3 linked regions of the Homo sapiens genome follow. The protein of the gene in region 2 purifies or fractionates together with the protein of the main gene of each other region. This does not show direct contact. Each region holds a gene or a part of one and is shown on either strand. Other genes may lie near its edges. The genes, in order: WAPL, LRPPRC and LONP1.

Region 1 (7,107 bases), on a different chromosome or scaffold from region 2:
AGAAAACACAACCATCTAAAGATTTAAACTTTGAGCCCCCAGAAGTAGAGAAGCATCAGACCAGGTGTCTGATTAAATGTTTATACAGCAAATTATTTTTGGAAATTAGGATGCATTGTAAAGGCCATGGGGGATCCACTGCCCTTAAAAATCACACTGTAATGTCTAAGTTCACTGTTAACTGCATAACAAAGCAAACGAATTCTCTTTTTTGTTTGTTTTTAAGAGATGAGGTCTCACTAGGTTTCCCAAAATGGATCTGAACTCCTGAGCTCAAGAGATCCTCCCTTAGTCTCCAGAGTAGCTAGGACTTACGAATGCACACCACCTTGCCCAGCAACAAACTAACTTCTTTTTTTTTTTTTGAGACAGAGTCTCGCTCTGTCTCCCAGGCTGGAGTGCAGTGGCACAACCTCAGATCACTACAACCTCCACCTCCCGGGTTCAAGCAATTCTCCTGCCTCAGCCTCCCAAGTAGCTGGGATTACAGGTGCCTGCCACCACACCCAGCTAATTTTTTGTATTTTTAGTAGAGTCAGGATTTTACCATGTTGGCCAGGCTGATCTCAAACTCCTGACCTGAGATGATCTGCCCACTTTGGCCTCCCAAAGTGCTGGGATTACAGGCATGAGCCACCGCGCCCAGCCCAGAAGATGCAGTATTAAATTAATTATCACCTAATCTGTATTTAGAACATAATTTCTTTAACAAAAATATAGTAAGGCCATCTCAAAATACTACTAATGCTAATAATTAGCAATGATGGTTACTTTCTTCTAATTTTGGAAAATGTTAAACCTAATAACTTTTGTTATGTTTATCATTATGCAAAAGCATCAAAGGCAAGGAAAATGAAGAAATTATTCCTTATCACAATGAGGCCATGTTCCAGATTCAACACTGGACAAAAACGTTTCTAAAAAATTAGGGCTGCATTTCCAAACCAGTTTTTTTCCATTCATTAGTATCAAATAATATTAAAAGATTCTTCTCAGTGCTTTCTGATTATAGAGAAAATTATGCTTACAAAATTCTGTATCAATATACTACATTAGCTAAGATAACAAAATACAATTTTAAAAGTATAAAATGACACATTAAGAAAAAATGTTTTCACGTTTTCATGATAAAATAAGTATTAAGCAAAAGCTTCTGGCCATAAGCACTACAAATTTAGCAAATAAAATGAACTCAATCTATAATTAGGATATATTTATAGAATATTCAGTGAAGATATTTTTGATAGCCAAATAGACTAGTAGTTTTCAACATAAGGCTTCTCAATCTCAGAAACTTAAAAAATACCTGATGGTGCTGGGAATCATCCAAGGTTTTAAAGACCATTGCTACCATCCCATGTGCTCTCAGGTGCATTCGAAAACTGGGCATGGCACATTTAGTAGCCAAGCTAATAACACTACAAGAAAATAGAGCAGGTTAGGGGGGCTGGAAACAGCTAGTACATTAGTTTTGAGTTTGTGTAATACCAAAACCAGCAAATAGGAAGGGGGTAAAAGGGTCAAAGCATTGCCCATACATGATCACAATATAAAAACCATAGGCAAAACACATTATTAAAAATATACTGATGCCTAGTGCATGATTAGGTACACTGTATTTTAAAAAAATAACGTAATTGTCTTTAGTGCATTCCTTACGTTACTACTACCACCATTAAAAGCTTAAAATCTGAGCTGCCTTTCATTAATACTTCTGATAAAAATCACAATTAATTAATTATATTTGATTGGATATACTCCAAATGACTGAAAAATTTAATCAAAATTATAGTATTCAATCAATCCATTAGGAAATACAAAAGATCATCTTTTTGAGCATTTGGGTACAAATGTAAGCGTCCAGATCACAATATGCTTAAATAAATCTAACTTATTACTTGAACATCAGAGGTAAAAAGAACTTAAAAGATTTTTTTTTAATTATTTACTTTATTTCTTTCTGGTAATTTTTTCTTTCTTGTTTTTGGAGACAGGGCCTCACCTCACTCTATCATCCAGGCTGGAGTGCAGCAGCATGATCACGGGCTCAAGCCATCCTGCCACCTCAGCCTCCCAAGTAGCTGGAACTACAGGCATATGCCACCATGACTCATTAATTTTTTATTTTTTGTAGACATGGGGTCTCACTATGTTGCCCAAGGTGGTCTCGAACTCTTGGACACACATGATCCTCCCAACTTGGCTTCCCAAAATGCTGGGATTATAGGTATGAGCCACCACACAAGGCAAAAAGATGCTTTAGCGTAATTTTTTTTTTTTTTTAAGCTCTTGAAAACTGAAGCCTATGCTATATTAAAAAGGCTCTCATCACCCAGCTTTCCCTCTTATCATGCAGAATCAAATTCTTTATAAAGAAATGGATAGCATTTTAACATATCACTGGCTATACATACTACCCCATCATAACAAAATAAAAAATGTTTGGCTTTTTGGACAACACCTAGTTGAAAAAATTTAATACAGCATGCACATAATTGTAAAATATAAAAATAAGATCTTACCTAAGGCAACGTGTGTTTAGAGGCTGAGTGCTCTTTAAGCCACTTAACAAGTACTCAATGTCATCAGTGAACTCTTGATTTTCACCAAATTCTACAACATCGTTGAAGTGCTTCACGTGCTGAACAACAGTATATAACTGCCAAGAAAAAAAAAGTTCACCCCTTTTTAACTAGGAACTAGCATATTTAAATCTATGGGCTCACTGTACTTTACATAAGTGCATAAAATAGTTCATTAGATGGCAACAAAAATATTTTTAGAACAAGGATGATGGTAGGACAAAAGAAGTTTGTGGTTCAAAACTGAGTATCAGTATACTGATATTTGTTGAAGATATTAAATGGCTAAATGTTACATACAAAAATCTATCAACATGCAGTAAACACTGTATATGGCTGCTTACTTCTTTGTCTTCTCGTCTGCATTTCAGTGCAGTAACTATATCTTGGTAGGGCTGAGTAGGTATTGTCACAGTTTTTATCACTTTGGATGGTGGTGCAGGAGCCTTAAAAACTCCATCATCTTTTTGATTTGGTTCCTTTGAAGACAGCCTCACCTATTAATAAAGGTATTAAATTAGTTGTTCTAAATAAATATATAAAAATAGGAACGTCTCATCTATCTGGCAAATTCAGCTTCAAAAAAAAGTAAATAAAGCTTTTTAAAAAGCAGGGAGCAGGGAGGCCTCTCAAAGGTCTTTAGAAATACTTTGAATTCCATGCACTAACAGGTAAGACATATGTATATCTGCACACAGAAGAACCACTCAAGGATTTCTTCTGGTCTTTTTTAAACTTTTTATTTCACACAATTTGTCGTTTGTCTCTAGTACCATTAGAAAGACTAAAGAACCACAACTGCATGCAAAAATAGCTTTCATAAGCAGAAAGGGACAGGACAGAAAAACCAGACAGAGTCAAAAGAATTTTAGTAGCACAAGAGTGTGAAGTAGTTTAGGGTAAAAATAAATAGCTATAACAGGAGCATGCTATATTACTACTAATATACAAAATGATTTCTTTATACTATCAAAAGGAGTCTAATCAGTTTAAGAAGACAGGGAACTGTACATTATACTTTAGAAAGACTTCTATCCCCAAATTTCTTATTGTTATAAAGAACTAAGTTACTTGATAACTCCAGATGACTGAAGCTTTACTGTTAACCTAGAAATCATGTATGATATTACCAGTCATTCTGGAGAAAATAAGTTGCTAAGAATCTTTTTCCTAATGTTTTGGATTGAAAAGTATTACTAGAATACAGGAAGAGATTTGTCTCTGAAAAGCAAATTAAGCACTGAAAGCCACTTAGAAATATATATAGGATGTAATACACAACATAGCTCTTATACAAACATCAAATATGGACAATCTTGCTCTTAAACACTAAATACTATAAATTCCATGAAATGTGGGTCATGAGTAACAAGAGCCTTATTTTTTATGGCTTTCATTGTTTAACCTAGCAGCACTAGAATTTCTGCTATCTTACTGACAATCCTCAGTTTTCCAATGAATTAAACTGAAACTAATAAGTTTCAGTAAAGAAAGCCAAAATAAACTGTTAAATAGAAAAGTCAAAGATTTACAAATTATGAATTAAAAGAGTAACTGCTTAATTTATAGCTTATTAAAAAACACAAAATAAATAAGTACAGTTCACTTACTGTGACACTCTGAGGTTTTACTACTGGTGGCCCAGGCAGTTCTTCTGAATCTGGATGATTCCAATGTCTGGCATTATATACAGCTTTTGTGGGTGACTAGAGAAATGAGAGAAAGATCAACTGCTTCCATCCTTATAAAAGACTCTCAACTAAAAATCATAAAGAATAATTTATATGCATAAACATGTCCTAGAAACAGCAGGATGGATACTATCTGGGAACAGTCCCACCATAATTCCCATTCTCATGTCTATGGCAAATATAATCACTGTAGTACTAGGTCACAAAATCAGTAATTAGTGCTCTGTGCAACTATGACTAACCAAGAAAAGATGGCACTTGAAAGTAAACCTAGGCCAGACATGGTGGCTCACACCTGCAATCCCAGCACTTTGGGAGGCCAAGGCGGGTGGATCACTTGAGGTCAGGAGTTTGAGACGAGCCTGGTCAACATAGTGAAACCCCATCTCTACTAAAAATAAAAAAAATTAGCTGGGCATGGTGGCAGGCATCTGTAATCCCAGCTATTTGGGAGGCTGAGGCAGGAGAATCACCTGAATCCGGAGGCAGAGGTTGCAGTGAGCTAAGACTGTGCCACTGCACTCCAGCCTGGGTGACAGAGTGAGACTCCGTCTCAAAAAAAAAAAAAAAAGGTAAACCTCTTGCTAGGCTTACTAAGTAATCAACACATTTAACTCAACATGGGCTGGGCATGATGGCTCATGCCTGTAATCCCAGCACTTTGGGAGAGTGAGGAAGGAGGATCACTTGAGTCCAGGAGTTCAAGACCAACCTGGGTGAGCCCCAGAGTTCAAGACCAACCTGGGTGACAAAGCAAGACTCCGTCTCAAAAAAATTTAAAAAATAGTAATGATGATAATAATAATAGTTCAATGGGTTCTTTGGCAAAACTTTATTCTTCCTACTACCAATTCATGCCTCACAATCTTCCAACAATGGGAATCCAGCAGTTTATGACAGACAATGCGCTCATTTAAAGCAAACCACTGCAGCCAGCTGTGTGCCACCACTCAAGAGTTCTCAAATTTTATCAAGGTAAATATAATACATATACCACATATTCCAAGACACAGTGGGATCCAAAAAAGTACCATGTAATAACATACATGATTTCTGCAGCAAAATGTTACACTAAGCAGGACAAAGATGTAAAGTCCCTCACACATCAATTGAGGTTATTGTGCTGCCCTATCAATTTACTTAAACTTCCAGGGGATTTTCAGTTTTAACACTGAATTTCCGAATTGAGAATAAATGACAGTAAACCTACAAAATCAAATCAAGTAAAAGAACAAAACCCTCACTTTCAAGAGAAAACTGCATAATTACAAAGACAAAATAGAAAGGTAACACCTCATCCTCTCTATCCTCTACAAAAGTGACGTTAAATTATGTTTTGAACTTCAAATACATGGTTTGGACAAATTAGAGATTTTCTCTTATGAAACACATCTTATTTTCAGTACAACAAAAATAAGAAGACAAGTGGAAAATCATACTTCAAGACCGTCAAAAAATCTACATTAAAAAACTTAACTATATCCCCTTACTAGCTGCACTGAAGCAACATAATTAGCATTAAGCATTAGTGTGAACTAATCGTTAGCTTTTAATATATTATCTCTAATAAAGTGGAAAAATTCTCATTTGGATTGTGTACACAAACCCATCATTCATAAATGCCAGGTTTGCATAACATGATGATGCATTAGCAATCTGAAACAATTTATGCACTCATGCAATGACTTGATCTGGCTTCCTGAGACACAACACATAAAGTGGACTGAACATAAATTTTAAAACCAACCTCTCTATTCCTTCCATTCTTTTCAAAGACCAGCTATGTAACTTGTGTGTCTGCTAGTTATGGATCCCTAATTTGAACTACCTTTAGTACCTCAAGCATACTCAGAGCCCAGGCTCTGGTAACAACAGCCTTTTGGCAAGAATGAGTGCCTCAAAGCTCAAGCATTTTACTTCTTTTTAAAAAGCATTGATTGGGCTAGGCACAGTGGCTCATGCCAGTAATTGCAGCACGCCTCTAGGCCGAGGCAGGAAGCAGATCACTTGAAGCCAGGAGTTCACAACAGCCTGGGCAAGAAAGCAAGATCCTGTCTCTACAAAAAATAAAATTAAAGAAATTAAAGAAGCAAAAAGAGAAATTATTTTTAAAAAGCACTGACTAGGCCGGGCACGGTGGCTTACGCCTGTAATCCCAGCACTTTGGGAGGCTGAGGCGGGCGGATCACGAGGTCAGGAGATTGAGACCATCCTGGTTAACACGGTGAAACCCCGTCTCTACTAAAAATACAAAAAATTAGCGGGGCACGGTGGTGGGCACCTGCAGTCCCAGCTACTTGGGAGGCTGAGGGAGGAGAATTGCTAGAACCCGGGAGTCGGAGGTTGCAGTGATCTGAGATGGTGCCATTGCACTTCAGCCTGGGCGACAGAGCGAGACTCTGTCTCAAAAAATTAAAACACTGTAAGAGTGCCTGAAAGAATATGTGCTGTCGGGTGTGGTGGCTCACGCCTGTAATCCCAGCACTTTGGGAGGCCAAGGCAGGCGGATCGACTGAGGTCAGGAGTTTGAGACCAGCCTGGCCAACAGGATGAAACCCCGTCTCTACTAAAAATACAAAAATTAGCCAGGCATGGTGGTGAGTAACTGCAGTACCAGCTACTCAGGAGGCTGAGGCGGGAGAATCAGTTGAACCCGGGAGGTGGAGGTTGCAGTGAGCCGAGATTGCGCCACTGCACTCCAGCCTGGGCGACAAAGCGAGACTGTCTTTAAAAAAAAAAAAAAAAAAGTGCTTTGTAAGTATTAAATGTTATTATTAATTGTTATGTGATGATGTGCTGCTAGGTTTAAGTCTAACACATTCGTAAGAAAACAG
Region 2 (7,107 bases):
ATGCAATGAAATAAGATGTGAAACAATACAAGAAGTTATTATTTTTAGATGATGTGATTGTTTAATCTGCAAAATCCCAGAAAATCAGCTCACAGTAATTAGCTGGACTCACTAAATGTTTAAGAATCCATACCTCTTCTAGTTATAAAAGAAAATAGAGAAAAGAATCCAAGAAAGTATAGCTACAGATAAATAAAATATTTAGGACTATCCTTCAAAAAGTGAGTAGGACCTATGTGAAAAAAACTACAGGATAAAGACAGATTCTTCCTTCACAGTTTTGAATACATCTAGAATACATTTTGATAAGTTGATTTTTTTTTAAGTTAAAAACTATATAGATAAATGTTGACTTTCAGAATGGAAAAGGATTTTATAAGTATAAAAGGAGCAGAAAAGTAAAGCTAAAATATTGAATCTCTAAAAATTAGAAATTTCTGTATGTCAGTAAGTCATTGAACTGGGAGAAATATATGCAGAAAAGGTTACATTCTAAAATAGAAAAAAGCATTACACAGCAGTAATAACATTAATTCCTCCATATAAAGATTAACAATGTGTTATTATATTAACATTCTTTACAGATAGGTCTCTCCTGTATAAGTGTCTGCTTTATAAGGATGGAATCCATGGCTTCTTTATTTTCCTGTTTGACAGTAGCATGATGCTTTGTGTATAATGGCATTTGATACATACTTGTTGAATTAATATTGCCAGAAACCTTGTAGTTTGCCAGTTTGACTCTTGTTTACAGATTTATAAAGATACAAGAGATCTTTTAGCTTAAGTAACTTGTCCAAAATTACAGAATGAGCTGTTGACAGATCTGAGCTATCTGTAAGATGGGGCTGATAATAGTGTCTCAAAGTTGTTGTGAAGTTTGAGTGAGCCACTATATGTGGAACACTTAGCATAGTGCCTGAAACATAGTATGAAAGAAACATATCTGTTAAGATAAAAATGTGTATTAATTTAATGGAACAGCTCTCTGCTGCCTAAAATCACATACTCTCACCCCCAGATACTAACCATAGGCCTGTATGGTCACAGGCAGTTGAATAAAGATGTGAAATTTAATGCATGAAAATGTAGTGAGACATGTTACCACAAAATTGATATAAAGACCATGATGTCATGACTCAGTAGAGTAAGGCTGTGTGGTAACCTTATTTGATGTGGCCCTAAACAGTAGGGATACAAAGAAAACAAAGGTCATTAGAATACAGATAATTAACAAGAGCATACCATAGATCATGTTCATCAGCTGAAAATGGAATGCATCCTTAAAATGAAGGCTTTGAGTGACAGAATTGCCAGCACAGTCCTACTGTGTGAAAGAACTGAAGTTACAATCCATTCTTCACAGTGTGTCTGTAATGTGAGGACTGCTTTATATAGAAAAATCTTACAGTCACTTTTAAATATAGGGATATTGTCAGCGTTTTCTAACAGGAAGATAATTTTGTGCTTCATAAGTAAGAGGCCTTTTAATATCCGAATAGGCAGTTACTTGTAACTATACAGTAACTCAGTAATTACTGTCTTACATGCTTAGCTTGCTCTGTGTGACAGAGTATCTGTGTAGATAGGTCTGAGCGCCAAGATGGATGGGTGAAATGCTAAAGTGATAGTTTTACTCTTTTTGTTTGTTAAATTTAGGTCCACTTTAAAGCATAGGATTTTCAATGCTTTTCTAAAAATTCATTTTAAATTTCATTTGTAGGTGCTGTGTATGATGTGAGTCACTATAATGCTTTACTTAAAGTCTATCTTCAAAATGAATATAAATTCTCACCAACTGATTTCCTGGCAAAAATGGAGGAAGCAAACATTCAACCAAATCGAGTAAGTAGTTGCTATTGTGAATATATTTTCACATCCACCATTTTTTTTCTTTACTCAGAAAAAAAAGTATATTTAAAATTAACTGGCCCATTTCATTGACAGGTGACATACCAGAGATTGATTGCTTCTTATTGTAATGTAGGAGATATTGAAGGTGCCAGGTATGGATCTGTATGAACATGTTTAAGCGAACAAATTTGTACATTTTGTAAATCTAATGTCTGTTCACTCTTTGTTTTAAAGCTTCTTCCTAATGGAGGAAATTGTTTCAGAACTGTTTTAATCTAGAAAATCTGGTAATCTGACTTACATAAAATATAAAATTATCGTGTAAGAGAGAAAAGATAAGTAAAAGTTGCTATTTTAATTAAAAATTTGATTTACTGGAGAGAGGTATAAAGTTGTTGAGCTATAAAGCTGACTTTGCTTTTTTTTTTTTTTTTTTAAATATTTCCTAAGGGAAATGTTCTTAACCATTTAAGCTGTATTCATTTATAAAACTGGAAGTAGTGTAGAAAATCAGTTGCACCATTTCTCTGCTTATGTAAAATTTATTACTACTTATGAATGGAAGGTTTGGAAAATAAGGGATAAATTGGAATACATAATTTCATTTTTATCTAAAAGAATCTTATGAAACTATGCTTTTAAAAGGGTAATTAGTAGTGTAAGACAAATCAGATAATCAGATTTTTAAAAATCTAGTATTTGTATCGATAGTACTTCAAGACTGTTGATACATTAGAGAGTGGGGTTTTGTGGGAAGGGGATCAAAGGGATTAGTTCTTTCTTTGTGGTTTCTAAAACAAATGTATATTACTATTATATTTTAAAAACAAAAGTAACTCAAGGCCTAATTCTGTACATGTTGTAAAGAGTGTTCTTATAAATACTTTCAATGAGTATCTTCGTTTTTCCTTTGCAGCAAGATTCTTGGATTTATGAAAACTAAGGATCTCCCAGTTACAGAGGCAGTATTCAGTGCCCTTGTGACAGGGCATGCCAGAGCTGGGTAATGTTCAACCTAAGGTTTTGGTTCTTAAGTGATAGATGGCTGAGATGCTAAAGTGGTCATTTTACTCCTTTTTTGTTTGTTAAGTGGGGTTTAAATTAGAGAAAATTATTGTAGACAGTTCTTAAAATACATTTGTCTATCCCTTCAAAAAAAAATCTGTAGTATATGAGGTAGAGCATACTAATATTTTTATAATGAGCTTTTACATTTGTTCCACAAATCTTTCTTTTATTTGAATTTTTAGAAATTGGGCTTGAAGCCGGGCGTGGTGGCTCATGCCTGTAATCCCAGCACTTTGGGAGGCTGAGGTGGGCAGATCACCTGAGGTCAGGAGTTCAAGACCAGCTTGGCCAACATGGTGAAACCCGGTCTCTACAAAAATATAAAAATTTAGCCGGGCATGATGGCAGGTGCCTGTAATCCCAGCTACTTGGGAGTCTGAGGCAGGAGCGTTGCTTGAACCCGGGAGGCAGAGGTTGCAGTGAGCCGAGATTACACCATTGCACTCCAGCCTGGGAGACAGAGCAAGACTCCATCTCAAAAAAAAAAAAGAAAAAAGAAACTGGGCTTGATCTGATCTGAAGTAACTGCTCTGGAAAATATTTTTATTTTTGAAGAGTAATTTACTAAATGTTATTCTTACCTCGAAAGTTAAGTCTGAGTCATAACCTACATAATATTAAGAGGGTATGTTATTTAATGTCTATGTAATTATTATTATTTTTTAATGGGGGATCAGATGTTTATGATCTTTATTATTTCAGAAACATATATCCAGTTTAATATACATTAGTTCTTTTCTGACATCATAATTCCAAATGGTACTTAGCATTTTTTATTTTAATAAGCATATGTTTTAGTTTGAATAACTATATTAAATTTGGCAAAAGCATAATAATCTGTTTTTTGAATTAACTTGTAGTGATATGGAGAATGCAGAAAACATTCTCACAGTGATGAGAGATGCCGGAATTGAGCCTGGTCCAGACACATACCTCGCATTATTGAATGCATATGCTGAGAAGGGCGACATTGACCATGTTAAGCAGGTATGACTTATGTCTAAATAAACATACTTTAAAATCATTTGTAAAAATTTGTGTTATGTTTTACATGAGGCAGGAAAGTGAAGTTTATACCTGTTTTCAAAGATGTTTCCTTGCAGAAAGTAGTATTTATGGAGAATTATTATAGTTTAGTATCTCGGTGCTGGTATGTAACAGTTACTGTTGAAGTAGAGTATTTCCTGTTTTTTAAAAGAAGTCGTAAACCTTTAGGTGGTATTTTTCCCTAGTTTTTTGAATCTGGATATTTTATTTAGCTTTAATACTTAAATAAAAACACTCTAACTTTGTCTTCTAATTTCTGGAACTCTCTATAGACTCTGGAGAAGGTGGAGAAGTCCGAGCTTCACCTTATGGACCGTGATTTACTGCAAATTATTTTTAGCTTCAGTAAAGCTGGGTATCCTCAGTATGTCTCAGAAATTTTGGAAAAAGTTACATGTGAAAGAAGATATATTCCAGGTAGTTTTAAAAAAATCTATTTACATGATTTTTATAAAAATCTGAATTGCTATTCTTACATGATGGAAAGGACATTTTCTAACAATGGGCATTGTGGGAGTTGAACATAGAACTCTTAAAGTCAGTTAAATAAGCCCAAAAACATGAGTTAATGAACACATGGGGATGATTTGATTTGCAGGTGTTTTATTGTTATTTAGGCAGTTATATGCTTTTGATGTTTGCAATTCTTATTTTGTCTTCAGTATTGGAACATTGGTTGCAGTGTAAAAATATTGTTCAGTTTATTAACAAAAGATGTCTTTGTTTTCTTCCCAGATGCAATGAACCTCATTTTACTTTTAGTCACTGAAAAATTGGAAGATGTAGCGTTGCAAATTTTACTAGCATGCCCCGTATCAAAGGAAGATGGCCCAAGTGTCTTTGGCAGTTTCTTTTTACAACACTGTGTGACTATGAATACGGTATTCTGTCCACTTTTACTTTGTAGACAATGTAATTGGCAGTGAAATAAGATTCTTTAAAGTATAGGAACATTTATAAGATTAGACCAGTTGTAAACATCATAACAATGTTCTTGTGTTGCAAGATTTTTGGGTAGAAAGAGGATGCGGGGTTTAAAATGCTCATCTCAGAAGTGGTAGAATATTTGCAGCAGGTCAAACGGTGGGGTGTTTGCCAATCCAGCTAATGTGGTGACTTTTTTCCCACAGCCTGTGGAGAAGCTAACAGACTACTGTAAGAAGTTAAAGGAAGTCCAGATGCACTCCTTTCCTCTGCAGTTCACCCTCCATTGTGCTTTACTCGCCAATAAAACTGGTACTACATTCTTAAAGTTAAAGCCAAGTAAGGAAGTTTTGCTGAGGTAGCTTTGTGATCTTTTATGATATCTCTTTCAGATTTGGCAAAAGCCTTAATGAAGGCTGTGAAGGAGGAAGGTTTTCCTATCAGACCTCACTATTTCTGGCCATTGCTAGTTGGACGTCGGAAGGAAAAAAATGTTCAAGGTTAGATTTTGCCTTTTACCGATTTGTAATGGTTCCCAGAGCCAGTATGACAGTTTGCACGCACATCTAATTGGATTCTTTGGAAAAGCATACTTATTCCTGAGTATTATGAGATAATGGAATTGTTTTAAGTCATCATGAAGTATTATGTGTAAGCATTTTAAAAAACAAAACATGATGGATTTCTTTCATCTGAATTTCATTAATTTCATTTCTTATTTCATCTCTGATCTTGATATTCAAACTTAATGAACGTAGTTTTTTTAAGTTCTTAAAAAAACTCTTTAGTTCTTGATTTTATATATAGTGTTTGAAATCAGATTGTCTACCTTTAATAAAGATAAAGTTGTATATACAATTAGGTTCATGAAAACAAAAAGTATGGTCATTTTCTTTGTGGGCCAATCTATTTCTTTTTAACTGAGCTTAGTTAGAATAATAGGAAAGGCAGGAAAACTTTTATTGTGAAATGAGTACTCATGACCTGACAGCCTGCTGATTGAAGGACAAAAATGTTCAATCTTTCAGGTTCTTAAGTACGTTTAAGCATTTATCATACTTTTCCCTTGTACACATGGGATGTCTATAGGATATGAATAAGAATTGAACAAATATTAAATTTTAGAGTACAGTATCTAATTCTTCGGTTTGCATTATTGGTAATTCAGAAAGAGTAGTCTCATAAAAAGATGCTTTTAACAGAAGTACTTTCCCCTTGGGGAAACAAAAAATGGTCTTTTTCATTTTATCTCGAAGTATAATGTGCTTTGGAATGAGATGCAGAATTGTTAGTGTGACATTGGGTGACAAACAGAATGCACAAACAACAAAAAAAGTGCTTTTAGCAGACTTTCATATTGCAATTTTATTTTAAATGTACAGCCGTCTTCTGGTTTAAAGGAAATAGTGAAACAAGTATTCCCTAATTGTTTCTGGCTATAAAAGTCTCTAAATCCTTTTTAGAAAAATCTTTGTGAAAACAATATGCTAGTTTGATTAACTCTTTGTATATCCTCCAGTCTGAAAGCTCCAAAAGGTAACCTATAACCCAGTGTTTTGGAACCACAGAAAGTTTACATCATTCCATCAAACTCTTCAGGCATGTTAGTATTGTCCACCTTTACACAAGTATGAAAATTTTTTTGGTACCAGTTGAAATGTTTGTTCATCAGGTTAATCTGCTTTCCACAACCATGTCACAGTTGAATTGATTACTACATTTTTACTACTTAGTAAACATAAAAGAGTTAGGTAATTTCTTTCTATGGTTGTAGCAGTTGAAATAGTAGAAAATGGGCTTTATCTCAAATCCATCTTGTCTTAGAATCTCAGAATTTAGATTTTAAAAGTGCTGTACTGAAAGCTCACATTACGTGAATGAAGGAACTGAGGGCCACACAGACATTCAGTGACTGACCTTAGCTTCCACGTCTAGGTGTGATTAGGCTGGGATTAGAATAGAGGGTTTCTGTCCTCCTTTTAAAATATCCTTTTTTATACTATAACCCTTCCATATTCAGCTTTTGTAAGTACTATACTGTGTTTATTTTCTAAAAATTCTTAGCTGCTGTTTAAAAATTAGTTGCCAGTTTTTACACGAATAACATTGCTAAAAGAGAGTGAATTTTTTAATCGATGAAGGTTTTGTCTGAAAAAATATAAAAGTTTATGCTTTTATATTGTGTGTTCTGAGAGTGCAAAAGATTGTCAGTTT
Region 3 (7,687 bases), on a different chromosome or scaffold from region 2:
ACCCTAAAGTATCTGTTCTTTTTTGGGGGGGACGGAGTCTCACTCTGTCGCCCAGGCTGGAGTGCAGTGGCAAGATCTTGGCTCACTGCAACCTCCGCCTCCCAGATTCAAGTGTTTCTCCTGCCTCAGCCGCCAGAGTAGCTGGGATTACAGGCGCGCGCCACAACACCTAGCTAATTTTTTATATTTTTAGTAGAGATAGGGTTTCACCACATTGGCCAGGCTGGTCCTGAACTCCTGACCTCGTGATCTGCCTGCCTTGGCCTCCCGAAGTGTTGGGATTACAGGCGTGAGCCACTGCGCCCAGCCAAGTATCTGTTCCTGATGCTTTTCGGGTTATAGGAGGCCCTAGAAAATTGGATGAGGCTGGGCGTGGTGGCTTATGTCTTTAATCCCAGCACTTTGGGAGGCCGAGGCAGGTGGATCACTTGAGGTCAGCAGTTCAAGACCAACCTGGCCAACTTGGTGAAACCCCATCTCTACTGAAAATACGAAAATTAGAGCCAGGTGCGGTGGCTCACACCTGTAATCCCAGCGCTTTGGGAGGTCAAGGTGGGTGGATCAGCTGAGGTCAGGAGTTCGAGATCAGCCTGGCCAACATCGTGAAATCTCGTCTCTACTAAAAATACAAAAAAGTTAGGCACGGTGGCTCACACCTGTAATCCCAGCACTTTGGGAGGCCAAAGCGGGTGGATCACCTGAGGTTGGGACTTCGAGACCAGCCTGAGCAACACGGAGAAACCCTGTCTCTACTAAATATACAAAATTAGCCTGTAATATACAAAATTAGCGTGTGGTGGCGCATGCCTGTAATCCCAGCTACTCAGGAGGCTGAGGCAGGAGAATCGCTTGAACCCGGGAGGCGGAGGTTATGGTGAGCTGAGATTGCACCATTGCACTCCAGCCCGGGCAACAAGAGTGAAACTCCATCTCAAAAAAAAAAACAAAAACAAAACAAAACAGGCTAGGTGTGGTGGCTCACGCCTGTTAATCCCAGCACTTTAGGAGGCCGAGGCGGGTGGATCACGAAGTCAGGAGATCGAGACCATCCTGGCTAACACGGTGAAACCCCGTCTCTACTAAAAACACAAAAAAATTAGCCGGGCGTGGTTGCGGCACCTGTAGTCCCAGCTACTCGGGAGGCTGAGGCAGGAGAATGGTGTGAACCCAGAAGGCAGAGCTTGCAGTGAGCCGAGATGGCGCCATTGCACTCCAGCCTGGGCAACAGAGCGAGACTCCGTCTCAAAAAAAAAAAAAAAAAAAAAAAATTAGCTGGGCAGGGTGGCGGGCGCCTGTTATCCCAGATACTCAGGAGGCTGAGGGCTGAGGCACTAGAATCGCTTGAACCTTGGAGGCAGAGGTTGCAGTGAGTTGAGCTCTTGCCACACTGCACTCCAGCCTGGGCGACAGAGCAAGCCTCCGTCAAAAAATAAAATTTGTATGAAACTCCTCTCCCAGAAACAGACATAAGTACACACAAAATGTAGAAATGATTTCTGAAAATTTCTTTTTTCTTTTTCTTTTTCTTTTTTTTTTTTTTGAGACAGAATCTCGCTCCGTCGCCCAGGCTGGAGTGCAGTGGCGCGATCTCAGCTCACTGCAAGCTCCACCTCCCGGGTTCACGCCATTCTCCTGCCTCAGCCTCCCGAGTAGCTGGGACTACAAGCGCCCGCCACCACACCGACTAATTTTTTGTATTTTTGGTAGAGACGAGGTTTCACCGTGTTAGCCAGGATGGTCTCGATCTCCTGACCTCGTGATCCGCCCGCCTCCACCTCCCAAAGTGCTGGGATTACAGGCGTGAGCCCCCGCGCCCGGCCAAGAATTTCTAAAGGCTCCTTCACAGACCCCAGCTGAGGAAAATTATGAAGTCCTGCAACAAGGTATTCGGGGCTCCTTAAGGGAGTGTGTGGTGACTGGAAGGATGGTATAGTTTACAGCAGAGGTGCTCAATCTTGAATATGCATCAGAATCACCGGGGTTGCGGGGGGGGGGGTCTTGATAAACCACCGTTTGCTGGGTCCCACTGCCAAGTCCCCGACTCAGTAGGTCCAGGGAACTGCATTTCTAACCAATTATAATAAATTCCAGGTGATCTTGATGCTGCTGGTCCAGGGACCATTCTTTGAGAGCCTGTGTGGGGAAATGAGAGAACTGGATATAACCCACATTTTCAGAACTCGAGACAAATCCTATTAGTAAATTTCACTGGAAAATGTTTCTCCCACTTACTAGGTATGTGTTGTTAGGCAAGTGTGTCTTTAACTTTCCTAAGTATGCTTTCGTATCTATAAAATAAGGGTGTTGGCCGGGCGCGGTGGCACACGCCTGTAAGCCCAGCACGTTGGGAGGCCGAGGCAAGTGAATCACGAGGTCAGGAGTTCGAGACCAACCTGGGCAACATGGTGGAACCCTGTCTCTACTAAAAACACAAAAAATTAGCTGCACGTGGTGGCAGGCGCCCATAATCCCAACTACTCTGGAGGCTGAGGCAGGAGAATTGCTTGAACTTGGGAGGCGGAGGTTGCAGTGAGCCGAGACCGTGACATTGTACTCCAGCCTGGGCGACGAGAACAAGACTCCATCTCAAAAAAATAAAATAAGGGTATGGCTGGGCATGGGTGGCTCATGCCTGTAATCCCAACACTTTGGGAGGCTGAGGCAGGAGGATCACTGGAGCCTAGGAGTTCAAGACCAGCCTGGGCAAAACAGTGAGACCCCATCTCTTTTTTTTTTTTTTTCCTTTGAGACAGAGTCTCCCTTTGTCACCCAGGCTGGAGTGCGATCTCAGCTCACTGCAACCTCCACCTCCTGAATTCAAGCGATTTTTCTGCCTCAGCCTCCCAAGTAGCTGGGATTACAGGCACCTGCCACCAAGCCTGGCTAATTTTTGTATTTTTAGTAGAGACGAGGTTTCATCATGTTGGCCAGGCTGGTCTGGAACTCTTGACCTCAAGTGAGTGATCTGCCCACCTCTACCTCTCAAAGTGTTGGGATTACAGGCGTGAGCCACTGCACCCAGCCAGTGAGACCCCATCTGTACAAAAAATAATAATAAATAAAATAAAATAAGGTTAAGGAATCATTATGAATCTTCCTGTAAACATCAAATGAGGCCATACACCCTAAGAATACAGCTCACAGGTCCCTACTGAATGTGACAGTTTAGTCCAGATGGGAGTTCCCTGAGGGCAGGAACGGAGTTTCAGCAACTGGTCCCCATGGCAGGTTGGAGTATGCACTAACCTAACATTTACTGAAATTTCAAAATGTGCTGGGTAAGGCTGGGCGCGGTGGCTCACGCCTGCAATCCCAGCACTTTGGGAGGCGGGGGTTGCAGTGAGCAGAGATCGCGCCACTGCACTCCACCCTGGGAAACAGAGCAAAAACTCCGGCTCCAAAAAGAAAAAGAAGTGGGAGGGCTAGGCCCGGCGTGGTGGCTCACGCCTGTAATCCCAGCACTTTGGGAGGCCGAGGCAGGCGGGTCACGAGGTCAGGAGATCGGGACCATCCTGGCTAATACGGTGAAACCCCCGTCTTTACTAAAAATACAAAAAAAAATTAGCCGGGCGTGGTGGCAGGCGCCTGTAGTCCCAGCTACTCAGGAGGCTGAGGCAGGAGAATGGCGTGAATCCGGGAGGCGGAGCTTGCAGTGAGCCGAGATCGCGCCACTGCACTGCAGCCTGGGCGACAGAGCGAGACTCCGTCTCAAAAAAAAAAAAAAAAAGAGGTAGGAGAGCTTAATATCGGGCTGGGAGGATGGGGTGGAGTAGGGTGAGCGAGGCGTCAAGTTCGATTCCTAAAAAGAGTAAAAGGGGAGCCTCAGTGAGGTTGGGGAGCAGGCCTCGGCTCCAAGATGAACCAGCACCCTCCCGACCCCCGGCAGCACCCCAGCCCCAGGAGTCCTGGCAGCCCCACCGACAGAGCTGAGCTGTGACCAGCGGTCGGAGCCACATGGTCACAGCCGCCACCAGCATCAACATCAGCATCGACTTGGGCTTCCGCCGCCACCACTGCCCCTCAACCGCCACGGGGAGTCGCTGCACAATCCGAGTACGTGCAGGCTGAAGCCCTGCGCATGCGCATCAATGAGTCCCGGGAGCGGGCCTCCGCGCACTGCAGCCCGGCGCTCCGCCTGAATCTTGAGCATGCGCAGACGAATCCCGGGAAGCCCGAATCCGCGCACCCCAAAGTGCGCTCAGAGCCTGAGTATGCGCACCCGGCCACCCGTGGCCAGTCTAGAGTCTGAGCATGCGCATGTTGTCCGCGCGCCTAAGCATGTGCACAGGCTGCTCATGAGTTCCTAAACGTTGCGTTTGCAACACTACCAGTGTTTTGTACGGGCGCTGGCGCCTGCTCACAGCCTTCCACGTGACCGGAAAAGGCCTTCAGCGCATAAAGTGGGAGACCGGAAGAGGCGGAGACGATCCGATGCTCGAACTCCGCCCCCTCTTCTCCGCGTAGGCCCAGCTCCCTGAAGCGGCTGTTTCGAGCCACGCGCCCATCGGGTACCGAGGCACGCGCCGGGCGTCACGTGCGTTTCGCGGCGAGCGGAAATGACGCGAGTTGTGTGAGCCGCCAGTATGGCCGGGCTATGGCGGCGAGCACTGGCTACGTGCGACTGTGGGGAGCGGCGCGGTGCTGGGTGCTGCGGCGGCCGATGCTGGCCGCCGCCGGGGGGCGGGTTCCCACTGCAGCAGGAGCGTGGTTGCTCCGAGGCCAGCGGACCTGCGACGCCTCTCCTCCTTGGGCACTGTGGGGCCGAGGCCCGGCAATTGGGGGCCAATGGCGGGGGTTTTGGGAAGCGAGCAGCCGCGGCGGAGGCGCATTCTCGGGGGGCGAGGACGCCTCCGAGGGCGGCGCGGAGGAAGGAGCCGGCGGCGCGGGGGGCAGCGCGGGCGCCGGGGAAGGCCCGGTCATAACGGCGCTCACGCCCATGACGATCCCCGATGTGTTTCCGCACCTGCCGCTCATCGCCATCACCCGCAACCCGGTGTTCCCGCGCTTTATCAAGATTATCGAGGTAATGGGAGTCCCCGCCTCGGCCTCAGGTTTCCCACCTGTGCAAGCAGCGGGCTGAACCGTGGGATCACTTGAGCGCCCTTGTGTTTCGCAACTTTTTCAGACATGAAGTTTCTCGAAGGGTGCAGTTCGAATCCTTGTCTGCTCACCACTAGCTTGGGAACCTTGAGCCAAAGTCCTCTCCCTTTCGGATTTCTTAGGATCCGTTAGATGAGAGGAGTTGAACCCGATGAGCCTAGGATTATCCACTTTAGAACGCCGGTCATAGAAATCCGGGGCCGGGAGGGACCTGAGTAGTGTTACGGCGCTGTTAGTTTTCTCCTTACTTGGCACGAGTTTTGTAATACCTCCTCGCCCCAGGCGCTCTGCCGTCTGGTTACGAGCCTCACTGGGATCAGAATTCATTCCTTTCTTAGACAAATACTTCTTGATTGCTTATTATTTGCCAGAGAGTGTTCTAGGTTCTGGGGATATGGCAGTGAACAAAACAGACAAAAATTTCTGCCTTTGAAGCTGGGCATGGTGGCGCGCGCTGTACTCCCAGCTACTCTGGCGGCTGAGGTGGAAGGATTGTTGGAAACCTGGAGTCCAGCCTGGTCAACATGGCGAGACCCTGTCTCTTAAAAAATAAATCTGCCTTGGAGCTTACATTTTGGCAGGATGAGACAGGCAATAAAGATGTTTAGTAACGATATTGTATTAGAAGGCAATAATTACGAGAAATAGTAGAGCATGGATGGGACAGGAGGCTTAGGAGGGTGGGAAGAGGTGGGTTATTCAGTGTGTTCTTGACCTCCTACCACGTAGCAAGTTCTGAGAATACTGTAGAGAACAAGTCATTCCGGTGGTAGAAATTAGATCATTTCAGACTAAGAGCCTTGGGGGTGGGGAGGGAGCAGGATGATGTAATAGAGAGAAAGCAGTGAGTGTAAGGAACTTGAGCTTTTACAGTAGGAAGGCCCCAAAAGCCTTCTCCCCCAGCTCCCCTTCCCTTAAAAAAAAAAACTACTGATGTGGAAAGTGGCATCTATGGGAAGGTTATCTCCTAACTGGCAGAGCAAGGTCACGCAGTGAGTCAGCCTCTGCGCTCACTCTCCAGACTCTTCTAAACAAATCTCAAGGATCTGTTGGGAAGGGAAAGGCCATTTCAGAGGGGCAGCAGCCAGTAGAGAGGGGACAGAGGGAGCTTCTCCAACGCTGCTCCAAGATTTTTTTTTTTTTTTTTTTGAGACCAAGTTGCACTCTGTCATCTAGGCTAAAGTGCAGTGGCGCGATTTCAGCTCACTGCAACCTCTGCCTCCCGGGTTCAAGTGATTCTCCTGCCTCAGCCCCCTGAGTAGCTGGGATTACAGGCGCCCGCCACCGTGGCTGGCTAATTTTTCTATTTTTAGAAGAGACAGGGTTTCACCATGTTGCCCACGCTCGTCTCGAACTCCTGACCTCAAGTGATTCACCCGCCTCAGCCTCCCAAAGTGCTGGGATTGCAGGTGCGAGTCACTGCGCCCGGCCCCAAGGCCTTTCCTTGATGTTGAGTACTGGTTACTGATGCAGGCCCCCAGAGCAAGACCTTGTGGGGTCCTATCCTAGCTCCATAACCTTCAGCAAGTTATTCCTTTGGCTTCCCTCTTCTCATCTGTGACCTGGACATATTAGTGTCTTATTAGAGTTGTTGTGGGATTTAAATGAGGCCATGTGGGCTGGGCACGGTGTCTCACATGTTTAATCCCAGCACTTTGGGAGGCTGAGGCAGGAGCATAATTTGAAACCAGTATGGTCAACATAGACCCTGTCTCTACAAAAAAAAAAAAAAAAAGAAAGAAAGAAAAGCCGGGCACAGTGGCATGCACCTGTCTTCCCAGCTACTTGGAAGGCTGAGGCAGGAGGATCACTTGAAACTGGGAGATCAAGGCTGCAGTGAGCCATGGTGTCACCACTGCACTGCAGCCTGGGCAACAGAATGAGGCCCTGCCTCAGCAATAACGTGATGCTGTTTCCTCTTTGGTGTACTTCTGACATTTCAGGACTCTGCCCCGGAGGCCTTTTTCCCATCCTTGACTTCACCCCTGGCAGTTCTCTTTACCCTCCCAGGTTTCTGGGCCCAGGATGGTGTTCATCAGGCCTGGTCCCCTCCGTTCTGCAGAGCGACAGATGCCCCTTGCTCCCGGTGCCTGAGCAGAGAGATGATTCTTCTAAGAGAGTTCAGACGGCCCACGTGGAGCTAGCCAGGAGAGTTAAATGAGTGGCTGCAGATAGTATTTGGGAGACTGGCAGGTGGTTCTCATTGTATTTCTGGTTGATGATGCATTGTAAATCATAAAAATGGATCCTGCCAAGGCCAGGAGGCAGATGCCAAGGATGCAGCTATCAGCTGTTGGCAGAGGGGAAATTGGGAGGCAACTTCTTTGGGACCCAATAAATGTTTCTGAAATTGTTAGCAAAGCTTGATTTACTCTTCAGTTTGTACTTGACTTGTCTGGCCAACTTGCTCTAGAAGCTTCTCTCCTATTAGCAACTTTTGAGTAAGGAACAATGGCTCTTAATTTTTGGTGGGTATTAAAGAATAAATCATAAGTGTTAGAAGTATTAGTTTCTTTTAAAAACTAACTTCGTGGGCTGGGCGCGGTGGCTCACGCCTGCAATCCCAGCACTTTGGGAGGCTGAGGTG

The links.
Region 1: the proteins of LRPPRC (region 2) and WAPL purify together in Homo sapiens (affinity purification with mass spectrometry; 2 studies listed by BioGRID, with this or other methods). This does not show direct contact.
Region 3: the proteins of LRPPRC (region 2) and LONP1 purify together in Homo sapiens (affinity purification with mass spectrometry; 2 studies listed by BioGRID and IntAct, with this or other methods). This does not show direct contact.

What each region holds. Positions count from the first base shown.
Region 1 is NC_000010.11:86,469,686-86,476,792, forward strand, and holds part of WAPL (wings apart-like protein homolog), read right to left. Parts: intron 4,289-7,107; coding exon 4,193-4,288; intron 3,080-4,192; coding exon 2,927-3,079; intron 2,660-2,926; coding exon 2,523-2,659; intron 1,419-2,522; coding exon 1,307-1,418; intron 1-1,306. UniProt on the Homo sapiens protein: Regulator of sister chromatid cohesion in mitosis which negatively regulates cohesin association with chromatin. Involved in both sister chromatid cohesion during interphase and sister-chromatid resolution during early stages of mitosis.
Region 2 is NC_000002.12:43,971,893-43,978,999, reverse strand, and holds part of LRPPRC (leucine-rich PPR motif-containing protein, mitochondrial precursor), read left to right. Parts: intron 1-1,723; coding exon 1,724-1,845; intron 1,846-1,947; coding exon 1,948-2,006; intron 2,007-2,770; coding exon 2,771-2,857; intron 2,858-3,782; coding exon 3,783-3,909; intron 3,910-4,241; coding exon 4,242-4,386; intron 4,387-4,704; coding exon 4,705-4,850; intron 4,851-5,099; coding exon 5,100-5,205; intron 5,206-5,285; coding exon 5,286-5,393; intron 5,394-7,107. UniProt on the Homo sapiens protein: May play a role in RNA metabolism in both nuclei and mitochondria. In the nucleus binds to HNRPA1-associated poly(A) mRNAs and is part of nmRNP complexes at late stages of mRNA maturation which are possibly associated with nuclear mRNA export.
Region 3 is NC_000019.10:5,717,040-5,724,726, reverse strand, and holds the start of LONP1 (lon protease homolog, mitochondrial isoform 1 precursor), read left to right. Parts: upstream 1-4,580; 5' UTR 4,581-4,594; coding exon 4,595-5,023; intron 5,024-7,687. Other genes in the region: CATSPERD (cation channel sperm-associated auxiliary subunit delta), read right to left, coding at 3,919-3,989. UniProt on the Homo sapiens protein: ATP-dependent serine protease that mediates the selective degradation of misfolded, unassembled or oxidatively damaged polypeptides as well as certain short-lived regulatory proteins in the mitochondrial matrix.